Homo sapiens: one gene and its partner. The protein of the gene in region 1 purifies or fractionates together with the protein of each later gene. This does not show direct contact. Each region holds a gene or a part of one and is shown on either strand. Other genes may lie near its edges.

Evidence for each region. Proteins that work in one complex are often made in the same cells at the same time.
Region 2: the proteins of TSPAN15 (region 1) and SNX19 purify together in Homo sapiens (affinity purification with mass spectrometry; one large-scale study listed by BioGRID and IntAct). This does not show direct contact.

The regions. Positions count from the first base shown.
Region 1 is NC_000010.11:69,495,603-69,501,002, reverse strand, and holds part of TSPAN15 (tetraspanin-15), read right to left. Parts: coding exon 5,314-5,400; intron 2,795-5,313; coding exon of another isoform or gene 2,724-2,794; coding exon 2,607-2,723; intron 1-2,606. UniProt on the Homo sapiens protein: Part of TspanC8 subgroup, composed of 6 members that interact with the transmembrane metalloprotease ADAM10.
Region 2 is NC_000011.10:130,877,589-130,882,272, forward strand, and holds part of SNX19 (sorting nexin-19), read right to left. Parts: exon of another isoform or gene 3,219-4,684; coding exon 3,034-3,218; exon of another isoform or gene 2,124-3,033; coding exon 2,036-2,123; exon of another isoform or gene 967-2,035; coding exon 834-966; 3' UTR 1-833. UniProt on the Homo sapiens protein: Plays a role in intracellular vesicle trafficking and exocytosis. May play a role in maintaining insulin-containing dense core vesicles in pancreatic beta-cells and in preventing their degradation. May play a role in insulin secretion.

The sequences.
Region 1 (5,400 bases):
TAGGCTTACTTGCAAAATACAGCCAGAATGTCACCACGGTTTGCCACTTCCACCACCACCACCACCACCCAGCTCCAAGCATCTGTCTTCCCCTCCCTGGTGCAGGGATGCTGTGGGGAGCCCTTAGGTGTCAGCCCCCTGCAATAACTACTTCATGTGATCATTAATTTTATATGTCAACATGACCAGGCCATGGGATACCCAGATATTTGGCCAGACATTATCCTGGGTGTCTCTGTGGGGGTGTTTCTGCATGAGGCTAATGTTTAAATCAGCAGACTAAGTAAAGCAGATGGCCCTGCCCAAGGGGGAGAGGTCTCATCTGATCAGGGAAGGCCTGAACAGAACAAAAGACTGCCCTCTCCTCAGTGACCATAAGAGAATTCTCCCTGCTTGGCTACCTTCGGGCTTGAACTGAAATGCTGGCTCTTCCTAGGTTTGAAGCCTGACCAGCCTTTGAATGGGAACTCCACCCTCAGCTCTCCTGGGTCTCCAGCCTGCCGACTCACCCTGCAGATCTTGGGACTTGCCCGCCTCCATAATTACACAAGCCAATTCCTTATCATCAATCAATCCCTCTCTTTCCTCTTGCTGTATTAGTCTGTTCTTGGCTGAACAGAGCCAGCAAGTCCCTTCTTGGGTGGACCACTGGACTCATGCAATGCCTGGTCAATGTGGGTGGGAGTGTGAAGGCCTGGCCCCCTCACCCCAGTAGGGGACAACTCTGAAGGGCTGTCCTCATAGATGTGGCTGAGGCCTCCAGCCGAACTGAGCTGAGGCTGCATCACTGCTCAACTCCCTTCATTGCCCAATCCCGCTTCTGGCTCCCACTTCCACAGGTGTTGATCCAAGAGCACCTTCCTGGACAAGATGACCTATGACCCCTGGATCACTGCATATCAGCCCCTAACTCTATCCCTGCATCTAGCATGTCCCTCACAACAGCCAGACTGATTCTTGTAAAACCAAGTCAGAGTGCCCCTCTTCCATGCAGCCCTGTATGGTCCATCACTCAAGGGTGCCCCACAGTCCTGCCTGTGGCCTTCGGGGTACCCATGACCTCCCTGACTCCACCTCCTACCATCCTCCGCTGTGCTCCCTCTGCTCCAGCCACTCTGTGCATTTCTCAAACGCCCTGGGGTGATTCCCACCTGGGGCCTTTGCACAGCTGTTCTTGCTGCCAGGAATGCCCCTCCCCCAGACACCTTCCTCACTTTCTTCAGAGCTTCACCCAGATCCCGCCTTTCTCAGTATCCCAAACTGCAATCCTCCATGCCCTACTTTCTTTTTCTACTCAGCATTTATGATCCTCTATCTTTTACTTATTTTGTTTGTCAGTTTTCTCCACTAGGATGTCACCTCCTTGCGGGCAGAGACTTTGTTTGCTACACCCCCAGAACCTGGAAATGTGTCTGGCATAGAGTAGGTTCTCAGCCAATATTTGTTGAATGAATGAATGAATGAATGAATACAAGTTTGGCTTCCACATCTCAGCTTAGGTATTCAGATGCTGCTGCCCTGGGTGATGAGGTTCAGGATCACCCCACGCAGGCCTCTCTGGAAACTCTGCTACTCCTCAGCACCCCACTTCCCAGAGAACTACCCTAAAATGGCAGCTAACACTTCCAAACAAAGCTTCCCTCCTGGCCCGGCCTTTTTTAGAGCTAGTGCACTTGGCACTGGCTCTCTGACTCATGGGCGAGGCCCCCACCCGCAGCTGCTCAGTTTACAGAATCCAGCAGTGGGCACAGAATGGTGGCAATGTCAGGAGAAAAACTTTCCATGACTATCTGGGCCATGAGTAATTGCAAAGCTCTCCACCTCGTTCCAATCCTGAAACAGTTTCTGGACACATTTGTCAAACACAAGGACTGATGAAGCCTTTCACTTAAGCGCTGACAACACAAGACATCATCCCAAATGACCAAGGTGACAGACCCGAGAGGATCGTGCTGGGGAGAGGAAGAGGATGGCATTTACGTCACCAGACCCCCTTCCAAGCACTCTGCTGCTGATGATCACCAGGACCTCAAGGCCAAAGACCAATGGAGATGCCCAAGGTGCAGGTCCTGCCTGCCTCCACTAATGCTGCAGAGCCAGCTACCCCCGCTAAGCTCCCCTGGCCTGGGCACCTCTCCCTCCTGCCCTCACCTGGCCTGCACAGTTCTCCAGAGTGTAGCTCAGGCAACAGCTGCCTGCACTTCATCCCAGCCCTGCCAACCTTGGGCAAGACACCCAGCCTTTGAGTGCCTCAATTTCCTCATCTGTAAAGTGGGTAAAATAACAGTACATACCTCACAGGGTTGTCGTGAATACTAAATGAGTAAATACCACCAAAGTGCCCAGAGCAGGCCTGCACAAGGTAGGTGCTCAATAGATTTTAACCAACACCACTAAGAAAGACATGGTCTCCCTACCCCCGACCCCCAGAAGCTCCACTTTCAGGAGCCCTTGAGAATCAGGAAAGCCTCCGCTCTGCCACCAACTCCTACTTCCCTGCCATCCACCCACACCACCCATCTTCAAGTTGGGAAGAGAGAAAAGAGAACATTTATACCACCTGGGGTCCCCGACAGCCCCCCAGTCCCCACAGGAGCAGTGTCTACCGTGTTCCTGATGCAGCAGGTGTAGGGCACCCCACAGGCCAGGGGTCCAGGGGCACTGCAGTCGTGGTACTGATTCTTGCTCCAATCTCGGTAGTCCTCCCCGCCACAGCACTTGAACTGAGGGAAGCAAGCAGGAAAGAGGAGCTGCCGTCATCGCCCAGGCCCTGCTCAGACGACAGGAAGGGGCCCTGTCAGGAGACGGAGGCAGTTTATTATGTGGGTCACCCTGGGGCAGGGAGAGGCTGTACACTTTCAAGTCAGAGCTGTCAAAGTGTGGCATGGCTGCCTAGAGGGTAGTGAACCCCCTGTCACTAGAGAGGTATGGAAGCCAAGGCTGGGCTGCCTCTTGGTGGGATATCAGGGTAGTGACTAGGCACTGGGAGGAAAGGTCCTTCCTTGACAACTGGCCTCCACTTTCTTCATCTTCGTGTCCCCAAATGCAGGTGCTAGGCTGGAAAAGATGGCCCTTAAAGTCCCAGAGACCAAGCATGATTCTGTGAAAGTCCCTGCACCTCAACCAACCTTCGCACCCACCCTAGGAGCCACCCCGTCCAGCTCAGCTGGCCCTGCCCTTAGCAAGGAGAGCACCCACACCTCACAACCTGCCTGGAGCTCTCCCCTTAGCCGAGCCCCTCCCTGCCTCCCCTCCCTGCTCCTGTAGGAAGTAGTTGGTAACCCTCCTGATGGCTGGTATGTGCCTGGCATTGTCCTGGGCACTGGAGAGACAGGGTGAGCAAAAGCAAGGCAGCCCTTGCTCAGGTGGAACACATTCCAGTGGAGAGACAGAGAGTGAGCACTGGATGGAAAGGTGCTGTGCAACCTGGAAATGGAGAAATAGGGGGAAAGTGGGGAGGGGCAGCTCTAGGTTGGCAGGTCATGAAAGGGCTCTTTGTAGAGAGGATATTTCATCTGAAACATGGAAACAGAAAGAAGCCAGACGACCCATGCAAAGGCCCCACGCAGAAACAAGCTTGTATTTCAGCAGCAGGTGCGGAGGCCAACAAGCCTGGAACAGAGAGAGTGCAGAGCATGAGGATGAAAGGGCGGCACAGGCTGGACCATGCAAAGCTTTGCCAGCCAGCTGAAGCAGGGAGCTGGGACTGGAGGGCTCAACCAGGGCTGCAGTACACGTCCTGGTAGCCAGACACCTTTCAGAGTCCCCACAGTGCCCCTTAAGCCACCAGGTTTTGGGACCTAGAACTGTCTTTCTGCAATGTAGTTCAAAGGGCATTTGTCTTGCAATGGAACAGACCCAAGGTCAAATCCTCAGACCACCACTCCCTGCTGTGCAACCTCAGGCAAGTTGGTCAGCCTCTCTGAGCCTCAGATGGTTGTCTGTAAAGCAAGAATAAGGATGGCAGCTCTGCACAGCTGAGCTGTGATTACATAGAGTGCCATGCATGAAGCACTCAGCACTGGACCTGGCACCAAGCAAGTGCCCATTCAGCATTAATCACCTCCTACCTCTATGCCAGGAGAAATGAAATCCCCAAGCCAGCTAAAGGCTGGTTCCAATAAAAACATCTCACTCCACCCGGAGCAGAAGTCAGCTCTCCCAGCCCAAGCTGGCAGGCACATCCCTGGCAGAAAAAGACCTTCCAGAGGCTGCACCTGTTGTGACTGAAGAGAAAGTCTGGGCCAAGGGAGCGGCCACAGCAAGTGGCCCTGCATGTGGGGAGAGGCTAGTCCCCACTGAGAGCTGGCACAAGGATCCAGGCCAGCTGAGGCCCCCAAGATTATGTCCCAGGAAGTGCTGTCCCGGCTGAGTGGGCCTGCAGCCCTCACTCTACTTGTCCTCACCCAGGAGAACATACCAATGATCCCCACAGCTGGCACTGTGGTCTCACCCTGTGCTTGGCACTGTTCTAAGCACGTCTCCTGAATTAAGTCAAGGTAATCCTCATGACGACGCCCCAAGAGCTCCTGTCATTATTCCCCTTATGTAGGTGAGGAAGCTGAGGCTCAGGACCAAGTGAAGTTGATGTACAAAAGCCACCCAGGACAGCAGCTGGCCCTACCACTGCCATTATTATTATTATTATTATTATTATTATTATTATTATTATTATTATTATTGCACCAACAGATTTGGGTGGACCTAGAGGGGAGAGATGGTGTCCCAAAAGGAATAGGATCATCATCACATTCAAGGAAGTGTCATGAAAGTAAGAGAGGCGTCTGGTTCACTGTCCCATATTTGGGGGAAACTGAAATTAGTGAAGAACTTTCTCCCAATCAGGGATGTCTTTAACTTGACAAGGAGTGAGTTGTCACTGAAGAGACTTGGCAGAGGGGGCTTTGGACTGGGGTAGGTTACTCCCCTTGAGGTTGCTCACACCTCAAGGAAGGAGGATCCTTGCCCATTGGAGGGTGGTGCCCTGGGACCCTGCAAGGTTGCTTGTAGCAACACCTGACTTTGTTTTATTTGGGGGTATGGGGCAGGAAGCCAGTGTAACTGGAGAGGAACAGAAGGGTGTGAAGGTTTTGGGTCAGGAATGTGGGCAGAGGACTGGCTGAATAGGTTGGGCCCTGGCTTCCCCATCCTTGGTGGGCCATCCATGCTCACTGTTGCCTCCCAATCTGGCCAGCCACCTGCTTTGGGAATGGATAAGTCACCTGGTCCCTCACCCCATCTTCTTGAGCAGGGGCCTGAATGGGGGGCTAAGAGCACGGGAGGCGCATCTCTACCCCAAAGCGCCTGGCTCACCTTTTTCTGAACAAAGTCCATGATGTTTTTGAAGTCCAGATCATCATAGTAGTTCTCAATTCCTCTTCGAATGTTGTCGTTCAGGAA
Region 2 (4,684 bases), on another chromosome or scaffold:
GTTTTGCTGAAGACAGAGAGAGGGTCAAAAATTCAAAAACTCAATTGCTCTAGGGCAGGGGGTTGGGAGCAAAGCCAATAAATAAAATGGGTGGTATAAATGCCTTTCAGGAAAGGGTGTGAAGGGTGGGGTGGATTTACCAGAAGCTTTGGCAGTCAGCTTTGAAGTCTTCTGGAAAGGAAAGTGTAGCCTCCCAGGCAAGCAGCCTCATGACATCTTCCATAAGGCTGATGTGTTGGGAAACAGCAACACATGAGCAAGAAGTTCCTTGAAAAATTTTCTTCCCTCCTTCTTCTTCTGGAACTGTTGGGAAACTAGATTAGACCCAGGAGTCTGGTTTTTGAGAATGGCCCTGAATGAATTTTTAGTTTCCGGGTAGGAACAGAGAGCTGAGAAGGTTGTTTTCTCCTCCAAGGAAATCTGGCCACAGTTTTTTTCCTGTTCTATCTAGAGCTTGTGTGCTGGTGGATTAAGCACATGTGTGCACAGGGCCAGGATTCTGGCAAACAATCTCAGGGAGGATGGCAAAAGGAGAAGCAAAAGGGGTTCATTCCTCTACCTCACAGCTTCTTTTCCCAAAGGAAACAGGATCTACTCACCAGCAACAATCCCAACATCACAAAAGGAACAGGGAAATAAACGTGCATACAACTGGGACACACAGACCCCTGTCACCTGCTACAAATGGAGCAGAAGTGGGAGAGAAGTGAGCCACCGAGAACCTAGGCCTTCTTAGCTGTAGCCTACTTGAAGAGGGCACGGGCTTCCTGACTGGTCTCTGGTGGCCGAGTAACTCTACTTCCCTGACCTGGGAAGAAGGCGTGAATAACCAGCTAAGAGGAGACACCCATCCTCTTAGAGTTGCCTGGGGTATCTGAGGCAGAGGTGGTAGCAGCAGACTCCTCAACAGAGGCACTGAGATCCAAGAATTCCAGGATGATGTCCCCAAGGCAGTAAATCAAATGCCTGAAACGAATGGACAAAAAACTTAGGGTCTGGCTCAATCAGGAAACACAAGATCCTGTTTATGACATTTATTTTCTCCTCCCCCATCACCGACACCCTAAACTTCAATAGCTTGATGAAACCTCTGCCATGAAATTAATGTTTTTTGAACTAATAAAGCCTCTGACCCTAATAAAGGCAAGAACAGTTTTTATATAAGACTAGTTTTATATAAGACTAAGTTTTATAAAATTCCATTTCTCTTTACATAGTTACATTAGCACTGCTCTGAAGAACTGTGATAACAAATCCTTGAGATGTCAGGTTACTAGACACTTTCAGAGCTCCTGACTACTGCTGTTTCTCATAATTAATTACCTTAAATTTATAGGCTGCCTTACAGGCAGTGAGGTAAAGCCAGGATCCTTGAGGAAGTTAACGAACACAGTCTACTTTGGGGTAGGGTTTGAGTGCAAGGTTACTCAATACTTCCAGAAGAGTAACAGCCCAAGGGATGGAATCTACCTCTTCTGGATTATTCTAGGACTCTTCACCCAGCATTTCTGGTCCCTTTATGAAATTCCAACCTTACTATCTTGTCTACCTGATATGAAGCAAAGACAACTCCTGGTCTTGACATGAATCACAGCTTTGCTATAAGGCCAGGGCTCATGGTGAACATCTTTACATGGTCTGTGATACACAGGCCAGGGTACGCTCTTGGAGCATTCACAGGGGCTGGCAGATGTTGGAAAGAGCACTGAGCAAGTATGCTGAACAAGCCTGGAGGATAAGAGGTCATTTTCAGCAGCTCATGTGGGGGCCTGCATAGAGTTCTTCCAAACACAAATGGTGGGTGGTCCAAGAGTGATTTCCTAGCACATGACGACCTGCTCAGAAGCCTGATGGTGTGGATTTTACTTAGAGTGTGTGGATCTGGACGTCAAACTCTGTAGTCAGTGCCCAGAGCAAGTAAAGACTACAATCCTATTCTTTGGAATGTGGGCTTTTCACTCAGAAACCTTGGATACCTCTGAGACCAGAGGTGGCTGTAACTATGCTGATGTTGGAATAACATTTTCCCACTTACCTGTTGATGAGGGGTTGTTGTAGTGACTCCAGGACTAGACCCCAGCTCAGCCGGCATTTGTTCACCCCAAGAATTTCTACTACGAGATCTGAGGAGGAAAAAACAGATGGAATTTGCGTGTTATCACTGAAGTTTTAGATTCTAAGGACAGTCTCTCCCCAGGATCTCTGCCGTTTTTACATAGGTTAGGTATTTCAGGCCTACCTCTAAACCATACAGCCAAACTAAAATCCTCACAAAACAGGAAAAACCTGAGAAAAATATGTTTCTCAAGTTAGGTGTCTACATAAGAATGGGCTTCAAAAATTATTTTGTAACCTGTCACTCAAATGCAGGTACTCCTTCCAATGTAACAGTTTAGGTTGGCAAACAGAGTTATAATAATAAGGGTAAATAAAACTGATTGTCCAGAGCTAAGTTCACAATTGTTTCCTGGTTATCACAGCCATAGGCAACAAACTGCCTTCCTGGCCCTCTAAAAACACAATGCAAGGAAAAACAACCTTCTCAGATTTTGTTTTAACTTATTGCTAAAGGCCATGTACCATACTCAATGGCTGCAATTTATTAAGTTGGAGCTTCTGTGAGACATGTGATTTTCTTCCTTGGTCCCAAAATGCTATGAATTGGTAGAGAATCTGAAGTCTTCATCTCCTGGAAATGGCTCTGAGACCTGTCCCTGCAGGCAGAGCTTCCCCAGACCTGCCAGCAGGTAGAGAGAAAGTTATTAACCTAAATATCTGCAGGATTGTCACCTAGTATTTAGGGTGCAGCTGTAGAGTTCCTTTCCATTCCCTTGGCATCAGCTGAGCAATGGATAAAAGAATTGCAGCCCTGTTCATTTTCCTATTAGCCTGGGAAATGATGGGTCAACAGAGTTTTGAATCTAGCCACATTCAGGGCCCTTTTACAAACAGGAAAAGGTGCAGGGGTAATGGTGGCAAAGCAGAATGGAAGAGAAATGTGATTGGTATAATTGATCTCATTGGTCCAATTACCTGGGAGGACTCCCATCAGGCTCTGCAAAGCCTGTTTCTCAGCAGCCAGTTTCTGCTCTTGGGTCCTTACGGGCCGTGGAAACTTAGGCAAAACTCCACCAGGCCAGATGGACTCCTGAAGAAGCAGGAGGTACTGCACCCAGCGCTGTGGACTTGTTAAATTAGCTACCTGCACCTCTAGCCACCTGTGGTAGAAGAGAGACGAAAGCTTAGATAAAGCTGAAGGAAAGGAAATAACAAGGCAGCGGACTGACTGTTTATGTTCCCCTGCAGATTCGTGTGTCAAAATCCTAACCCTCAAGGTGATGGCAGTAGGAGGTGGGGCCTTTGGGGAGGTGATTAGGTCATGGGGGCAAAGGTAAATGCCCTTATAAAAGAAACCTGAGAGAGACTTCTCACCCCTTTTGCCATATGAGGACACAGGGAGAAGACAGCTGTCTATGAACAAGGAAAAGGGCCCTTGCCAGACACCAGTTCTGCTGGTACCTTGATCTTGAACCTCCCGGCCTTTAGAAACTGTGAGAAATAAATTTCTGTTGTTTATAAGCCATTCAGTTTATGGTATTTTGTTATAGCAGCCCAAACAGACTAAGATACCATGAATTACATGAGCAATCAGAACAGGACAAAGTCAGCACTGACTCTTGCAAAGGAAACCAAGACAATTCAACAGCCTGGGATAACAGAATTTGAAGATGAGTAACAATAAGAATCGTGTTATTTATGGAGCGTTCACTATGTGCCATCTACCGTACAAGAAGTTTTACAGAACAGAACACTAAAAGGGCCTCCGTCTCTGGGTGAGCCTGCACCTATACCTTCCCAACTCTCCTCTGGCAAGGCTGCACCTATTATCTTTCTAGCTCTCCTCTGATGGGAAGCATTATAACCTTCTTGGTAACATGTACACACAGACTTCACAGCTACGGACTTAGCGATCTTTAAACAAATTCCTCTCTCTACCTCCCCAGCCATATCTTCTGGTCCTCATGACTGTCTTAGGGATTTCCTACATCTGCCCTTTGTTCATAATAGTTCTCTCACTAACAAGGGCCTCTTCTCGCCTTGCCTGAAGAGCAAGTCTCAAGTCTGCCCTTCTGGCAAGACCTGTTTCAACCCTACTTCCTCCATGAAATCCTTGACCATCACAGCTGGAAGTGCTCTCCTTCTCCATAGACCTCCTTTGGCAGGTAGCTCTGGAACAATTACTTTGGAATATGCATCTTTTTAAAGGTGTTTATAGCTTTACTTCTTCAACTAAATTATAAGCTGTAAGAGTTCTGTGTCTTGTACTTTAAAAAAACTCCCCGCCGTGCTTGGTGCTCAAGAAATGGTTGACTGACTGATAACTGTTCTTATTTCAATGAAAAATTTTCCCTTTGTCTTACTTTCGAAAATGAGTCAAAATTTTCCCTTTATCTTACTTTCAAAAATGAGTCAAAAATGAGGGGGAAGATATACCAAATCTGGAGTTCAGCTGGAAACCTAGAAAGTGGTTCAACGTTATTCTTGATCTGTTCCTGAATTTTTTTCAAAGTGATATGGTCAGAAGTGAGGTTCAAGGCTGTTGAGGCCTCCCCTTCACCCACCTCATTTAAGACTGACATAGCTGTGTGGGTCATGGATGGACAATCAACCACTTCTATTCATG